Regions from separate parts of the Homo sapiens genome. Here region 1 is linked to region 2. Evidence: fine-mapped expression QTL. A gene starts in region 2. The other region holds a variant in brackets. All regions are shown on one strand. Distances are from middle to middle. Region 1 overlaps NUB1 (negative regulator of ubiquitin like proteins 1). Region 2 holds the start of NUB1 (negative regulator of ubiquitin like proteins 1).

Region 1 (2,912 bases), 36 kb before region 2:
CGATTTGTTAGCCAAAAGCTTAAATTCAGGCCCCAAATCCAAGTGTGGCATTGTGTCAAATGAGGCTGAGACTCCGCGTCACCTCAGCTCACCAGGCACTTCTGAGGCAAACCCTGACAGGTACATTTCAGTCCCCTGCCCAGGATGCACCCCAGCCCCGCTTGGCGTGCGGCATCTTTCACAGCAGATGCCCTCTGCTTCTGAGATCATCCTTCCATCATCTCCTCACAAAACTCAGTGGAAACAGACATCCTGCAATCAAAATGAAGAGCTAGTCACCCAGACACTTTCAACACCTACAGCTGGGGAGGCTGAGTAAATTAATGCAAAATTAGGGTGACAATTTTTGAATATATTTCCCACCTTTTATTTCCATCGGTATCATCCGTTTAAAAAGAATGACAAGAAGATTCCCATCAGTCCAAACTGGACCACCCACACTTTGAAAAAGTTGGAGCATTTCAGCCGGCTCCGCATGATCCATCCTGTCTTCAGTCAGTGCCTTCTGGAAGGGAGGGAAAGTCTTGGATGCACCTGGCACTCAATCCACTCGGCACCTGGCTGCTGCTGTGGTCCTGGGGCTGGAAGGAACTCCCACTGGGCACACATCTACAGAGGAGTGCGTGGCGCAGTGAGGACGGTTACTGCTGGAGCCGACACACAGCGAACTACATACTTTTAGAAAGAGCCTCTGTCACATGGCTAGAACAACAACAACAACAAAGAAAACCCACAAAAAACCTGGAGAAAATATATCTAAATCTCTGATAGGTCTCTTAGCTAGCAGTGAGTTCAGTATGACAGCACAGAGTCTAAAAATATTAATTAAAAATAAATTGCTTTGGTTAGCATTTAAACCTTTCCCATTCAATAGAAGATTTCTGTAATGAGGAATGCTGAATATATATAAAGCCTGACACTCAATCTTGAATTTCGGGGGCGTATTTTACTGAACTAAGAGCATAAAACACTGGCGTCCCAGGCTGAAGCCATTTGCTGCGACCTGGTGTGGCCCCCAAGGCCAGCGCCTCATCGTTATGCCCCACAGCACTTGGAAGGAAGACTTAAAGGACGATTTGAGGGGCGGGGAAAGGGTGGCACAGGAACCCATGTGGCACCCTGGCAGAGATGGCAGCGTGGGAAGCAGGAAGGTCAGGGCAGTGGGTGCAGGAGGCAGGCAAGCTGGGCAGATGGAGCCACAGCTGGAGAGGAAGCGGTCGGGACACCCTTCCCAGGACCCTGCCCTGGACACCTTCCCCAGGACCCCTGTTCTACAGGACCCCTGTTCCTTCCTGTTTCGGGGTAAAACACCAAGCTGGGGAAGGGGTTAGGGACGCAGACCTGGGAGGCAGATGGAACGGCCTGCGCCAGGCCAGAGGAAGCTTCTTCCCCGAGACCA[C/T]GCATGAAGGCCCTGGGACCCCTCCTGGACTTGTCCCCTGCCCACCCCCTCCTACACCCAAAGAGGACTTGTAATTCAGATAAAAAGTAAGAACAGAAAGAGCTGCATTAGCCTTTTCATAATGATAGCATTTATAAGCAGAAAATTAGCGCTATTTCTGTTCATTATTTAGTTTTTCTTTGTTGCTGACTTCCTATTTTCTACATAGGATAGGTACTCTGCAATAATAATTTCTTCATCTTCCAGAGTTGAGTCAAGATAGTCTTCCTCATGCTCTGGAATGTCTTCCAGTATCTCATTGACGGCCTCTGTCTCCATGTCTTCGTCTGTTGAGGCACTAGAGGTTCCTACAATAAAATACCGCAGGAGTAAGTGAATTATGTGAGGATTGTCCTGGGGACACTGCACGACCACAGTCAACCTCAGACTGTGCCTCTTGCTGGCCACACTGTCCAGGTGGCCGGCCCGGTGACGTCAGGGGACGCCCCCTCAGTCTCCACATCTGCCGTGGCTTAGGGCCACATCTGTTGGCTTCTGAAGACACTTTGCTCTCAATGCGGCCCTCAAAGACCTCAGACCTACCTGCGGAGTCAGAAGGGGACGTGGCTGGCGGGGACAAAGAGTCTTCTGGCGACAGCGGCAGCTCGGGAGGCAGGCTTCCTCCGTTGTGAGCAAGGGTCTGGGCGGCCAGCTGGACGTTGCCTCTGAACACTCTCAGCGCAGCTTCGGCCACGAGTGCATCAAAACCCATGTACACCAACTAGGGGAGAGCGCAGGGGTCACAGCATCAGCCCCTGGCGCCTCTTCTGCCACCCCCGTCAGCCATACGAGTGGACAGCCGACTCTCATGTTTAAGAGCTCCCGGCGTGTGCACCATGGCCCTTTGTGCACAAGTCATGCTTCTGTGCAATGTGAGCGTAGAGCAACCTGGAAGGGGGCTTGGAAGACTCAAGTCGGGTGCGTCAGGGAGCAGCCATCTCAGGACAGGCAGTGACCTCGGGCTGAGAGCAGGGCGCCACACCAGCCTCACCACGAGCACCGCGAGGTCAGTGGCCACAGCATACAGGCGTGCTAACGCGTGTAGGGGCACAAATGTGGACAGAGCCGTCACTTGGGATACAAAGCTGGATGGGTTTCCCAGGTCACAGTGCCATCCTTTTAGGTCACAGGCAGAGAAATGAGGCTGATGCAAACAGTGGTGCATAGACAAAGGCAGCAAACCTAAAGAGAACTTCCTGACACTTCCCCAGTTTTCCTGCTTTCCAAGGAGGCCTCCCCTGCCCTCTGTTACTGCGTGGGTGGCCTCTGAGGTGGGCAGGTTACACCTGGAGCCTGGGAGCCAAGGTTTCAGCACGGACTCCCCCAGTCCTGCTGCCTGATTCACCCGGGTTACCCCAAGCAACCCCACCCGAGGCTGTCCAAGCTGAGGGCACAAAGGCCTGTCACTCACTCGGTCAATGTTTTCCTGGGAAGGACTTTCTTGACGGTTGTCGGTTTCAGGATTGGAATCATT
Region 2 (2,912 bases):
CCCCGTCTCTACTAAAAAAATAAACAAATAAAAAATTTTTAAAAAGATGCCATCCAAGCCACCACTTGACAGAAGGACGAAGGAGTGTTACAAACCCAGTGCGTGTCAGACACTCCAGGGAGCAAACAAGAGCTCCAGGGTTACACCGAATAAGATTTAATGTTAAAAAAAAATTAAACCACTGTCTTGAAACTTAAGGAACTTCAGTTATAGACAACAGAGTAAGTGGCGACATATTTTAAGTCAAGTTTAATAAGTCAGTTTTTAATTTTAACTGAAATGAGAACTGAAAAAGTTTCATGCATGCCATACAATGTTTCACATTGTAACTAAGAAAAGACGAAACTCATTAATATCACTCCGTGGTCCAAGCAGAAAGTGAAACGTTATAACGATCCTTTAAAAATTTCACTTTCACTTTTGTAATGAATCGATCATTGCTACATTTAGCCACACCTTTTCAAGTATACATTATATATAGTTGAAACACAACTATATCTAGTCAAGACACATTCATTTTTTCTTAGGAAAATGAAAGATTCTTGATTAAAAATAAAAGGGAAGGAGGTGAGAATGATAGAATCAGGTCGTCAAGGTTCGAGAAAATCAAGTGTCTTGTCATTAAATAGCAAAGAAAATCTGGCTTTGATTGCAAATAAATCCCAAATGGTATACTCGGAGTGTTACGATTCAAGTATAGCATTTGGCTAATTTTTTATAGACATATTTATTCCTTTCTCTCCCCAAACCGATACACTCAATATTTTCTTTTAAATACCCCACACCTCTGCCTAACTCAGGGCAAACCAAAGGGCCCCGAACGGCCAGCGCGTCCCGAAGCCCGGCCCACCGCTCCCGGCCCCGGCCCCGGCCCCGGCCCAGCTCCACGCATGGCTGCTCACCCCCGCCCCGCGGCCGCTCCACCCCTGGCCAGGAGAGGTGCCCAGTCGGACCGGGAACCGGGGCGCCAAGCAGTGCTGCTGAGGCTGGGGTCGAGGACACTCGGCCGCCGTGTCCTCACCTGCGCCACGCCACTCCCGCCGCGACCAGCAGAGTGCCCGGATGCGGCAGCGGCCGCCGTTTGTTTTCATTCCGGGTGAGGCCAGCCCCGCCCCCGCCGCCGCTGTCGCCTTCGCGCCGCCGCCGCCGCCGCCGCTTGGAAAGAGGGTTGTGGGCGGGGCCAAGGCGAAGCCAGCTGTGGGCGGGGATACGGTTGTGTGGGCGTGGTTACCGCGGGGCGGAGCCGCGACGGGGCGGAGCTAAGCGGAGGCGGGGCTGGGCGAGGATGTGGCCGTGTGGGGCGAGGACCTGGGAGTTGGTGTCCAACGCCACCCCAGGCTCAGTCTTCCAGGACTTCCCGCCCGGGCTCAGTTTGCCAGCCATCAAGAGGAAATGGATCCTGGCTTTGTTTCTCCAGAATCCTTGAAAGAGGCTGGGGGAAGGGTCGGGACCGTCCCAACCCGCATCTCATTCCTCAGCCTAGGCTGGACCCCTTCCCTAAACCAGCGGCTTTTCACCCCGCCCTCCACAAGCCCACCAGGGGCTTCCCTGGGGTGAAATTAGGCTGCTTCCCGGGAATTTCCTCCCCCATGCTGTCCACGGCCACTAGGGACCACAAGGCCTAGGGAGCTCTGCCTACTTCCAAGGTCCTATTCCCAAGGCTGTGCTCAACAGTGACGCTTCTATTTTATTATCAGTTATTGCTGTTAATCTCTTACTGTGCCTAATAAATTAAACTTTATCGTAGGTATGTACGTATGTATAGGAAAAATGAAGTGTGTGTATATATATAGTATATATATATGTGTGTGTATGTAAAATGGGGTGCAGTACTATCCGAGGTTTCAGGCATCCACTGTGGGTCTTGGGACACACCACCTGTGTGTGGACGAGAGGGGACTCCTGTAACCTTGCAGTGACCAATCCGTTTTTCGTTCCCTGTTGCTGCTTTCTTTAGCCCTTTTCTACCTATAAAGCCCACCTCCTCTGCCCAGCTCGTTGGAGCACCGTTTCTAAATTTTCAGAGAAGATGCCATCCTGATTCATGAATCAATAAAAACCAATAGATCTTTAATCTAAATTTGTGGTAATTTTGACTTCTGACAAAGGGATATTAATAACTGTATAACCGCACCAGACCAATCTGATTCGCCTTTTATATACCCAAGTTGTGAGTTGTTTTTCAGTTGCATGGACTCCCAGATGGAAGGTTTCGCACGTAACCTGAGGATGCCCAGGTGAACCAAGCATGCAACCAGGGGCGGAACCTGAGTGCTCAGATCAAAGCAGGGACTGAATTAAGAAATGGGCACTGCATGGTGAGATCCAGAATGCAATCAGATCAAGCCCTGGTGTCACCCCATGGCAGGGTCCAGTCAGATGAGCATCCCAGCATCACCTCATCGCAAAATCTAATCCGATCATGCGTCATTACCCTATGCTTATAAAACCCAACCCAGCCCCAAGCTCAAGGAGACAGAGCTGAGGGTTTCCTCATGTCTCCTTGACAGTCAACTCACAATAAAGCCTTTCTTTTCTCAAAAGCCCGTGCCATGGTGTTGGCTTCTAGCACATCAGGAAAAAGCCCGTTGATTGCTCAGTAGCAATTGCAGCAAGGTAGAAGGACAACAGAAACTGTTCTGACATTTTTTTCTGAGGGCTTTCTCTGAGATGAGTAACAAAGATAGTTTCACTTTTACATTTACGTAGTAGACCATCAGGAAATTGAATGTCCACGCTCAGGTGTGATGGAGCAGCTTGCAGTAGACCAAGGCTCCCACTAACAACAACTAGAAAAGCCAGAAAGCGAAGTCAGAAAACATCTGTTTGAAGGCAGTGAAAGCTGCTGAGGCAAGAATGGGGGGACTTGATATTCCAGAGAATGAGGAACCTTCAAGGGGTGAGCTAATGTC

The links. PIP is the estimated chance that this variant, and not a neighbour inherited with it, causes the effect. A credible set is the group of variants that fine-mapping cannot tell apart.
Region 1: its variant is the best candidate, but not a certain one, in a credible set for the expression of NUB1 in skeletal muscle (GTEx, PIP 0.56).

What each region holds. Positions count from the first base shown.
Region 1 is chr7:151,375,881-151,378,792 of GRCh38, reverse strand. It overlaps NUB1 (negative regulator of ubiquitin like proteins 1), which reads right to left. Exons shown (of 15, transcript NM_001243351.2): 13 at 2,850-2,912; 14 at 1,982-2,159; 15 at 344-1,746. The coding sequence ends at 1,568. It also overlaps a transcript of WDR86 not described here. Among named protein-coding and RNA genes, the nearest start is that of WDR86-AS1, 32 kb to the left of the region's middle. The variant C/T (reference allele first, on the strand shown) is at 1,400.
Region 2 is chr7:151,339,956-151,342,867 of GRCh38, reverse strand. NUB1 (negative regulator of ubiquitin like proteins 1) reads right to left here and starts at 1,056. Exons shown (of 15, transcript NM_001243351.2): 1 at 1,022-1,056. RefSeq lists silencers at 787-966, 1,137-1,336 and enhancers at 934-1,435, 2,505-2,594, 2,725-2,784.